3 linked regions of the Homo sapiens genome follow. The protein of the gene in region 1 interacts with the protein of each later gene in a biochemical or structural test. Each region holds a gene or a part of one and is shown in the gene's direction. Other genes may lie near its edges.

Region 1 (4,192 bases):
GAAAAAGTCAAAAGAGCCTCCACTATTCAAACCACAAATCTAGCCAACACTTTTATCTTGAGACATCTCTGGAAAAATGATTTTTCCTTTTCCCTGCTCCTCAGTGCCAGGGATTTTTATTCATTTTGTGGTTACTGCATGCTTGCCATATGCCAGGCAATGTGTTTATTAGCTTATTATGATTTCAAAATTAGCCCTGGAAGACAACACATATCTTCAAAGGACTCTCAGAGGTCATCTCATATCTTCCCCTAGCTTTCCTTGTTGATAAAAATGGCAGTTCATCCCTCACCACTTAATACGTGGAGGGACGCGGGCCTAAAGAAATTCAGTGACTTGACCAAAGCCCAGAGTGGTGATGAAACCAGTACCCAAGCGCGGGGTTTCTCACTCCCCTTTTCCATCACACGTATATATATTAAAAAGACATGAAGTTACTAAGATGTGTCCTGGAGGCTCTGAGGCAGATCTGCTGTAGGAGGGATCAGCAGAGGCTTCTCTAGTCAGGGCATTCTCTGGGCGTTCAGCCCTTCCCTCCACTGGGCTCCAGCGCTGTAGAGAGGGTGGGGTTTTTACCTATCAGTATAGCGGGAAAAGATACCCAGGTGGCAGGAAGTTTAAGCCTCACCTGGAACTTATATTGAAAGCCACTTGGTAGAAAGGATAATGGTTTGGAGACAGAGTTCTATTCCTGCCAGCATTGACACTGTGTCTGAAAAGCCAGCATCGACACTGTGTCTGCAAATCCCTCAGCTATTCTGAGTCTCCGTTTTCTCCCTGTGAGATGGAGATCATAAAATCCGCCTCATCCTTAGGATTATTCTCCTGAAGCTACAATAAGGCCTGAGGCATTGTACGCTGGAAGAAACGTGTATTAATAGCAACTTCTGTCCCACCCCATCCCCCAACACGTCGATCCCCTCCGGAGCATAAAACTTTCCCCCAGCATCTGACCTGCCCAGGCCACCCTAGCACCTAGGAGCGTGAATTCCTGATGCGGGTTGTGGGTGGCGCGCCCTCCCGGTTCCCGCTCTCGTTTTTGTTTTTGGTCGGGTAAGGCGATGCTGTAGAGGCTGGCGATCTCCAGTCTTCACGAATCCGCACGTCTCTCCATTATCCACCGCGCCCGCCCACTGGGCCCCGGGGCGGCCGGCGGCCGGGTCTCTCGGGCTCCGCGTGTCGCCCGAGCCGCCGCCGGAGCGAGGGTCCCTGCCCCCTGGGGAGCGGTCTCCAGCCGCTTCGAAGCCGCCTTCTTCCCCCTCCGTGAGTCAGAAACAAAGGCGGGGGGGCGGGGGGAGCGCCCGAGCTGCGGCTCCGCGATTCGCCCTTTATTCTGAACTCGCAACGTCAGCGGCCCGCGGATGGAGCTGCGGGGTGCGGACTGGGCCGCCCACAGCGCACCGGGCCGGGGGAGCGGCCGCGCTGGGCCGGGCGGGCGGGTGGCGGGGGTGCGCTCGGGGACCCGGGCCGCGTGGGCGCCGGGATGGAGGGCGCCAAGGGGCGGGGAGCGGGCGTGCGTGTGTGTGCGAGTGCGAATGCGAGGGAGGCCGGCCTTGAGTGAAACCGGAGCTACAAAGAAGGGGAGAGTCCGGGAGCGGGAGGGCGCGAGGGAGGAGCGGCGGCGCCGGGGCAGCTCCGACGCCCTCCCGCGGGGAAGGAGCCCCCGCGGTGCCGCCGAGGCCCCGACGCGGGGCCGCCCCTCGGCTCGCCGCCCCGCGCCCGCGCCCGCTGGGAATGATGAAGAAGAACAATTCCGCCAAGCGGGTGAGTGCGCTTGCCCGCCCTGCGGCCGCCGCCGCCTCCGCGCTCTGACGACCCCCGCTCCGTCGGCGCCGCGGCGGCCTGGGAGACCCACGGCCCGGCCGCGCCCCCGCCCCGGCGGCCCGGTCCCCTCGGCCTCGGCCCCGCCAGGCGCCCGCGGGGGCTTTTGTTTGTTTACTCGCCTCGGGGGGCTTCAACTTGGCTGAGTTTCCCCACGACCCGCACCTCCCCCGCCCCCGGGCGCCGGGCGAGCGTTTGCCTCGCGCTCCGCCGTGGCGAGGAGACAATGGGAGAGAAAACCAGAGAAACGCCGTTAGTCCCCGCGCGGCGAGGACGGGGCGGCGGGGGCGCAGGGCCTGGAGGGAACCTGGGAGCCTCTCCGCGCCCGGCCGGCGCCCCTGCCACTTGCAGCCCCGGTTGTTTATTCGGGAGCGGGGGAGGGGAGCGGGGGGAGTTCCTCGGAGTGAAAACCTTTCCGAAGTGGGAGCGAACCTGGGGCGGCCCCCCGCCCCCCGGCCGCAGCCTTCGGAGGAGACTGGGCCGCCGAGGCGGTCGTGAGAGACGGACGGAGAGGAAGCGCCGGCTGGAATCTCCTAACCGCCCGCTTCTCATCTTGTCCTGGGGCAGGGACCTCAGGATGGAAACCAGCAGCCTGCACCGCCCGAGAAGGTCGGCTGGGTCCGGAAATTCTGCGGGAAAGGGATTTTCAGGGAGATTTGGAAAAACCGCTATGTGGTGCTGAAAGGGGACCAGCTCTACATCTCTGAGAAGGAGGTGGGTGCCTCTTGCCTCTAACTCTCCGTTTTCTCATAGCCCCCACTTTGTCACTCCCCAAGGGCTCGCCTAGCTTACTCCACCCCCGTTTTGTTCCAAAGGCAAGTTCAGTGGTCTCCTCTCTACCCCCATCTCATCTGCAGAGAAAGGCCACCCTTTAATGAGAAGACCAGAGTGAGAATTAGAAGTTGAGTTGGCCGCTTACTCAGTGTTTTTTTGTTTGCAAATACCTTTCTAACAACGATAAGCCCCTCCCAAGATGCCCCAGAAGTTCTAAGTGTCCCTTGCTGCCTCCCACCCTAACCTGGCCTCCTGCATATAGGATTTCTTTTCTATTTCTGCTGAAACAGTTTAGCCTATTCGCCACCCCTTCCTGTCCCCCCACCTTAACCCAGCCAGCCTCCCCTTTCCTGTCTGTGGCAGGAGCGTGCACAGGTCCTGTCCGTGGCGCATCCGCCCTGAATCACAGAAAACACGCACCCCGCCGTCAGGCCCCTGTGACCTCGGGTGTGTGAGTGGCAGTTATTTTCGTTGAAGCCAGTGTCCCTAACCAGTATGCTCTCTGTTCCCCACCCCCACCCCATTTAAAAAAGGCAAGGAACCCATTTTCTACCCACTTCCTGCCCACCCCTCCATTTGTATCAGAAGGGAGAGAAATGGAGTTAAGAACCCCTGTATGTCTTTGGATAGCTTTGGCTGTGTAGTTAACCATGAAAACCACAGTCTACACTGTGTCAAGACCTGAGCTATGATAATTGAATCCAGACCCATCTCCCTTTTTTCCCTAAGTCTTGGGATCAATAACGTGTACTAATGTGGAGAAATCAGAATTGCCCCTACAGTGGTTAGAAGTCATTCCATTCCCTGCCTCTGTGACTGTCCAAAGGCAGTCAGTATAGCCTGGAAGACTGTCCTGTGTACCGGTTAGAGTGGCCCTTCCTCCCGCCCTCACGGGAGGTATTCTGTGTTCCCTCACCCAGGGCTAACTGGGAAGTCCTCCCTGAGTTCTAACCTCTTCTGCTTTCTGCAGTAGACATCCTTATTCAGTAGATTATATTTAGGTAAATAAAACCTTTTATGGTATTGAAACATACACACACACACCCTGAGACAAAGTACTCATCTAAAAGAACATCTACTGAGGCATCTAGGGAAGAACTAAGCTGTGCCACAGCCAAAGAGATCCCTCTTAAGGGTATTGAAACCTAGCTGTTTACACAAAACTAGCAAGTTGGTGATGGAAAGTCTTAGGAGTGAGGTGAGGGCACTTTTCTTGGTCTGTCATCCAGGCAGGAATGCAGTGGCTCAATCACAGCTCACTTCAGCTTCCACCTCCCAGGCTCAAGTGATCCTCCCACCTCATCCTTGGAGTAGCTGGGACTACAGGTGGGTGCCACCATGTCTGGCTAGTTTTTGTATTTTTTGTAGAGACAGTGTTTCGCGTTGTTGACCAGGCTGCTCTCAAAACTCCTGGCCTCAAGTGAACCACCCGCCTCAGCCTCCCAAAGTGCTGGGATTACAGGTGTGAGCCAACCGTGCCTGGCCAGGAGGATTTATTTTTAAGAGTTACCTCTGCCCAATCACAAATCCTCCAGAAAGTTTTCTCCACAATTTTCTGGCTTTCTAAATTAAAAAAAAAAAAAAAAAAAAAAAACAA
Region 2 (3,500 bases), on another chromosome or scaffold:
GGTGCATTTTGCTCAGCTGTAAACGGGAACCTTCCTGCTGAGTGGGGCGGTGGGGAGGATGCACGGAGCTGCTGCGTTGGAAAGCACAGGCCTCCTGAGGAGGCGGCGGGATGAATTTGGGCTGATGCTACTCCTGGTGATTGCCAGACAGGACTGAGGGCACCTGAGAGCACAGAAGGGGCTCTGCAGGGCAGTGGGCACAGGCTCGTTGTTGGTCCTTGGGAGAGAGTGGTAGGGCCTGTTAGCTGATGGGAGGGCTCCAGACAGGAATGTGAATCACTCCCACCACTGTACTCCTGCCCAACCAGACGCTGCATATTAGCTCTACAAACCTGCACAGCAGCCTGGGAGGTGGGCAGTGTTAGCACTCCCATCTCGTAGATAGGAAACTGAGGCCCAGGAAGCCACATAGAATATTGGGGTCATTCTCGTGAGTAGTTCGCCTCTCAGTGCTGGGCACTGCTGCAGAGCTTAAGGTGTCTGCTCTCACTCATCCTCACCACAGCCTGGCAGCTCGCTGTCCCGATCGTCCCCGTTGTACAGGGGAGGAAACGGGCATAGAGAGGTTATTGGATTTGCTGGAAGTCAGTAATAGGCATGATGGTTGAACCCTGCTCTGTCGGCGAAGCTGCCTTTTGAAGACAGCCTCATCTTCTTGCCCTGCCTGCTATGACTGGAGTTGTCACTGTTGTCATCATGATTTCTTTTCTGCTTTCTCTTCTCCTAGACAGAGCTGGCACAAAGTAGGCCTCAGTAATCCAGAAATGACTCCATTCCATGCCTGCTTGGGATGTGGGGTGTGGCTGCTTCTCTCCACCCCCAATACCATGACCTTGGCCCCTCCCAAGGGGGGCCCAGGGGGAAGAGATGAGGATGGGAGGCACCCCCTCCCCACTGCCCTAGGGGCCTGATTGCTGAACAGCCTCAGGAGCCAGCCTTTGGCTGTTCTTGGTCATTTGTGTGTTCCATCTGTCTCCAAATATTGATTGAATCACTTCTATGTGCCACGTGTAGTTCTGGATGCGATCGGAGGTGGCAGAGAGGTTGCATTGGCCTGTGAGTGCTTGGTGTGGCTGAAGGAGGGAACAGAGATCTAGCTGGACTGGGTGGGAGAGGGGCTTGGGAAGGCTGCTGAGGAGCCCCTGTGATGTGAGAGCCCGAGGAAGTGGGCTGGACGGGGTGCAGCCAGGTAAAGGCCGCAAGGAAGGCGATATCTGGATGTGCTGGTGGAACAGCAGGCCCATGTAGCTGGAGCCGGGGGAGTGGGTGAGGGGGAGAGAGCAGGGTGGCAGGGCTCAGGGCCTGGGCTATGATGGGGATCCAGGGCTTTATCCCCAAAGAGAAGGGACACAGGTGGGTGGGGAGGGACCTGTGTGGGAGAGAGCTGGCTGGATTCAGGTGGCAGCCAGGGATGGAGAAAGCAGACCATATTCTGCTTTGGAGACAGGGCGCCCTAGAGCCCAGCTTCTCAAACTGGTGTCCGAAGGCCTTGGCGGGTGGGAGGAGGTGTCTGCAGGGCATTGACTCTTTTTAGCTGTGTGTTTTCATTTAGATGATATTTTCAAAAAGTTAGTAGGGGCATGTTGGAAATTATTGGGATGATTCCTTTAGAACCAAGTAGTGACAGCAGTAACATTAGCTGCCACTGCATGGCTCTGACAGGCTCAGGACGGCCCCTGATGTCAGAGTCCTTTATGTAATTGCCACCTATTTTTCAAGCACTGGCCCTGTCCCCAGCTGTGTGTGAAGCCATCTCATTGGGTCCCCAGGACAACCCATGGTTATCAGAAAAATCATCTTTTTAAATTTTTCATTATTTTTTTGAGACAGGGTCTGGCTCTGTCACCCAGGCTGGAATGCAGTGGCACCATCATGGCTGATTGCAGCCTTGACCTCACTGGCTCAAGTGGTCCTCCCACCTCAGCCTTCTGAGTAGCTGGGACTACAGGCATGCACCATCATACCTGGCTAATTTTTTTAAAACAATTTTCAGTAGAGATGGGAGTCTCCCTATTTTGCTCAGGCTGATCTTGAACTTTTGGGCTCCAGTGATCCACATCCCTCAGCCTCCCAAAGTGCTGGGATTACAGGCGTGAATCACTGCACCTGGCCTGCAAAAATTATCTTTTGAGATAACATAAACATGTGCTTGGGCAGATTGGTGTTAAGATTCCATTCTACAGGCTGGGCACGGTGGTTCACACCTGTAATCCCAGCACTTTGGGAGGCCGAGGAGGGTGGATCACGAGGTCAGGAGTTCAGTACCAGCCTGGCCAAGATGGTGAAACCCTGTCTGTACTAAAAATACAAAAATTAGCCAGGTGTGGTGGTGGGTGCCTATAATCCTAGCTATTCGGGAGGTTGAGACAGGAGAATTGCTTGAACCTGGGAAGCAGAGGTTGCAGTGAGCCAAGATCGCACTACTGCACTCCAGCCTGGCGACAGAGTGAGACTCTGTCTCAAAAAAAAAAAAAAAAAAAAAAAAAAAAAAAAAAAAAAAGATTCCATTTTACAGATGCGGAAGCTGAGGTTCAGAGAAGTGACCTGTGTAGCCTGGAAGTGGTAGAGTCAGGATTTGAGTTGACTAGAGGTGTGAGTTTGGGCCTGAGTCCTGCTCCAATTCCCCAGGTAAGCTGCGTTGGGGTGCGGGAGAGATGGGGTATAGCATGGGAGCTTCCAGCCGCACTGGGATGATCTGGCTCCTCTTGGGCCTGTGAGAGTCACATCCCTGCCTCCTGCCTTTAAGCTCCCGGTGCTTAATTAGCAGGAATTCTATAGAATTGCACTCCAGAATGGTAGCTACTAGCCATGTATGGACTTTTTTTTTTTTTTTTGAGACGGAGTCTTGCTCTGTCACCCAGGCTGGAGTGCAGTGGTGTGATCTTGTCTCACTACAACCGCCGCCTCCCGGGTTCAAGCGATTCTCTGCCTCAGCCTCCCGAGTAGCTGGGATTACAGGCGCCTACCACCACGCCTGGCTAATTTTTGTATTTTTAGTAGAGACAGGGTTTCACCATCTTGGCCAGGCTGGTCTTGAACTCCTGACCTTGTGATCGCCCCCCGCCCACCCCCCCCCCCCCCAGCCTCCCAAAGTGCTGGGATTACAGGCGTGAGTCATCGTGCCCGGACTCACATATGGCTTTTTAAGTTTTAATTAATTACAATTAAAGAAAAGTAAAAAGTCAGTTCTTTAGTTGCACTAGCCATCATTCAAACATTTAGTAACCACATTTCTGTCGTTATGGAAAGGTCTGTGGGCTAGTTCTGCTCTGGTTGCGGTCCCTCTCCTGCACCTACTCGCTGTGACTGTGTGCATGTGGCTCTCTCCCTGGGCCTCAGTTTTCCCATGTGAGGAACGGGGATAGTAACACAGGCTGGCTGTGAAGATGAACATTAATCCATGCCTGGTGCTTTGTGAGTGCTCACTGAGTATTAGCCTTGATGCAGACCCACTGGTTTCTCCTTTTGCCACTGGGCCCTGCCCTGGAGCTCCCAGGGAG
Region 3 (3,500 bases), on another chromosome or scaffold:
TGTATCTGTCTGTCTGTCTCTCTGTCTCTCTGTACACTAACCACAAAGAAGGCAAATAGTTTATTTCTTCAAATGTTACAAGCAGCTTATAGCCTATGATTTGCCCGTCTTCTCATAGGGTCAAAGACATTGAGTAAGATTCCCTTTTATAAGGGATACTAGTAGCCTGAGGAATGATTCTTGTCTCCACCAGTCTGGATATTCTAGAGAAAAGAATACCTGGATATTCTAGAGAAAAGAATATTCTAGAGAAAAGAAAAGGCCCAAGGAAGCTGGGATGCAATATAGGGTGCTTTCCCATCAAAACAGATGATGAAGGACCCTTGGAAGCTGACCCATGGCATCCCCCCGCCACTGGGTTCTAGCTCTGTCGCCCAATCTGGAGTCCAGTGGCGCAATCTTGGCTCACTGCAACCTCCGCCTCCCGGGTTGAAGCAATTCTCCTGCCTCAGCCTCCCAAGTAGCTGGGATTACAGGCACCCACCACCATACCCGGCTAATTTTTGTATTTTTAGTAGAGACGGTGTTTCACCATGTTCGCCAGGCTGGTCTTGAACTCTTAACATACCTTGTTTTTCCACTTCTGAAGTTAATAGAATAATAGTCATTGGAATTTGCAGTTCATTGGTGTTGTCACATACCCTTTACCTCTAATCAGAAGTCTGAATCTGAGAAGTTTGTTTACTAAATGGGAGGTAAAGATTTAGAACTCTTTTGGAAGAATTGTTAAAAACTAGATTGTTGTTAGGACTAATCTCATAGGCCACCTTAATATTCTAACAGCTTTGTTGTTTTCCAACCTGGAAAGATGGGGTAATTACAGAGTTCTTAGGTTTTTCATAAATAATCAGCTAGTTCTGGGCTATTTATTTGAGAGTGTCTCTCTCTGTCGCCCAGGCTGGGGTTCAGTGACGCGATCTTGACTCACTGCAATTCTGCCTCCCGGCTTCAAGCGATTCTCCTGCCTCAGCCTCCTGAGTAGCTGGGATTACAGGCACCCACCACCACGTCCAGCTCATTTTTTGAATTTTTAATAGAGATGGAGTTTCACCTCGTTGGCCAGGCTGGTCTCGAACTTCTGACCTCAAGTGATCTGCCCGCTATGGCCTCCCAAAGTGCTGGGATTACAGGTGTGAGCCACCGTGCCTGGCTGGGCTCTTTATTTAGTTTTGATTTTTTTTTTTTTTTTTTTTGCCTTGGGCAGCTAGGGGGGATGTTTTTGGCCCAGTTCTAGTAGAGTGGTGTTTTCAGTGACTTTTCTTCCTCCTTTTACTGTATCCTACCTTGGTTGAGATGATATTTTGCAAGAAAGAGTTCTTTATTAAGTCAGTTCTGTGTGTGCAATACTATAATTGTAATTCACTTTTGGAAGCTAGTTATTAACATAACATTTTGTAACTAGGTTTTGCTCTTGAATTTTTTGGGACCCCCCCCCGCATCTCTTCCTATAGCATATATGTACTTTATAGACTGGTACAATATAGAAGTTTGAAAGTGATTTGACCTGTTAAGATTTTAGCAGGATTTTTTCTTTTGATATCCATATATGTTGTTTTGTTATACCGAAAATAATAGAAAAAAACTAGTGTCCCATTCCCACTTTTTCTCTGAGCATAGCAACTGGAGTCTTGGGAGGAGGCTTACATCTTTCAAATTTAACTATGATCTCAGAATATGGCTGGTGCTTTCAAGGCAAGTTTTGTTTTGTTCAGGTTTGTTTTCATGATGTGTTAGGATCTGCCTAGTATCCTATCTGGTAGGCTGTACAACTTGAGTTCTAGTTATTCTGGTTTGTGTGTTCCCAGGAAGAGGGGGGTTCTGCAAAAATATTTAAAAGCCAGTCTTCTTCTGTTTTCTTCTTAGTCACATCTTCTGTCTACTTTACTCATTGACCATTTCTCATTCTTTGGAGATGAAAGTGTAAATTAAGTGAATGATGACACTAGAGCTGAAAAGTTACCCAGAGTCATGTTTATTCCCTTTTCTACTAAGCAGGGAACTTGAACTCTGGGTGCACATGAGTTCTCTGGAGAACATCTTCATAATGCACTGTAATATATGTCGTGTACACAGGTTAGCTCTTTGTGCTCCAGAGACACATTTTACAGTCATGATTTGGTATCTGCACTTGATGATTTTATAATTTAAAGGAATCACTACAAAGATTGACCAGCTCTGTGTCTGTTCCTGTGCCTACACGCCTGTACAAGCATACTCAAACACATCTGGTAGCAATGTAGGAAATCTTGCAGGCTCTGTGGGGGTGAGTGATACATTTAGATCAGGCTCTGTTTAATTAGGGGACTTAGAGGAGCAGGTGAAGCTTAAAGAGTGATTAAAAACTGGGAAACAAAAGTCTGGCTGTGGGAGATAATAAAGTAGAGAATTCTGTGGGCACAGAATAGGCAAGAAGATTATGCAGTGAGAAGTGTTGGGAATCATGAGTTCAGCTCCTGAAGGGCTTTGAAATCTGCTATGAGAACTTCTTATGTCTTTGGAAATCGGGAGCCACAGTTGAGGAAAGTGGTGATTTAAATGTTTCTCTGTGAAAATAATTTTGGCGCCCATGTAATTGTATCCTGTCTTTCTTGTAGATGTTCTTATAAAGAATAGGATTTCTGAATCTAGAAGAGCTGTGAGCAAACATGCTTTTGGTTTCCTTCTCCTCTCTGCGTGCAGTTGTGAATGTGGCTTACAAAGTTGATAGCAGTTGTATACATGGATCTAGGGATGGTTTGACAGTGGTGGTGGTGGTTGTCTACTTGCTGACACTTGGTGACTACTATTGATAATGAGAACCACAAGGGTAAGAGATTTTTAAAGCTTTACCCCCACATCCCCCCTGCCCCCAAAAGTTACCCTTAGGTTGTATGTATGCAAGTGTCTTTCTTCCATTGCAGGAGATCCTGAGCACCTTGGTTCCCAAGCCTCCTGCATGGTCCGAGATTCTTGTTAAAAATGTGGGCAGTAAGGCCCTTCTGCCAAGCTTAGTGAATCTGAATTTTGAGGGATGGTTCTAAGGAATTTGTTGATTTAAAAACCCCATGTCCAATTATTTTGTACAGGTTTGAATTAGAATACAATGGGTTGTGACCCATTATGGGCATTTATTTTCATGGGATGATGTGCTCAGGAGATTTTGTTTTGGCCAATAGTGTTGAGGAAAATGTGGGGATTGGTTTGCTTGCCTTTTTATTTCAGATTGCAGCAGTCATAGAGATGTTGGAGCACAAAGTGAAAGAGTTGTTTCTGTGAATTCACTTTAGAAATCTAGCTGTGAGCTCTGTGTGTGTGTGTGTGTGTGTGTGTGTGTGTCTTTCTGTATGTTTTTCTGTATGTATGTGTGTCTCGGGGTGGGTATTGAAGTCAGTTTGTGTGTGTGTTTATTATGAAAGTTGGTCAGGATGTAGTACTTCCATAACCTTAGGTAAGAACAGGACCTTTGGGTTATTGATTCAACATGAATTCATTTGAAATAGAAGCTTTGTGAAGCTTAGCAA

Evidence for each region. Proteins that work in one complex are often made in the same cells at the same time.
Region 2: the proteins of PLEKHO1 (region 1) and AKT2 form a complex in vitro, tested with the Homo sapiens proteins (one study listed by BioGRID).
Region 3: the proteins of PLEKHO1 (region 1) and SMAD5 form a complex in vitro, tested with the Homo sapiens proteins (one study listed by BioGRID).

The regions. Positions count from the first base shown.
Region 1 is NC_000001.11:150,148,524-150,152,715, forward strand, and holds the start of PLEKHO1 (pleckstrin homology domain-containing family O member 1), read left to right. Parts: upstream 1-1,392; 5' UTR 1,393-1,734; coding exon 1,735-1,764; intron 1,765-2,073; exon of another isoform or gene 2,074-2,388; coding exon 2,389-2,535; intron 2,536-4,192. UniProt on the Homo sapiens protein: Plays a role in the regulation of the actin cytoskeleton through its interactions with actin capping protein (CP).
Region 2 is NC_000019.10:40,275,346-40,278,845, reverse strand, and holds part of AKT2 (RAC-beta serine/threonine-protein kinase), read left to right. Parts: intron 1-3,500. UniProt on the Homo sapiens protein: Serine/threonine kinase closely related to AKT1 and AKT3. All 3 enzymes, AKT1, AKT2 and AKT3, are collectively known as AKT kinase.
Region 3 is NC_000005.10:136,135,845-136,139,344, forward strand, and holds part of SMAD5 (mothers against decapentaplegic homolog 5), read left to right. Parts: intron 1-3,500. UniProt on the Homo sapiens protein: Transcriptional regulator that plays a role in various cellular processes including embryonic development, cell differentiation, angiogenesis and tissue homeostasis.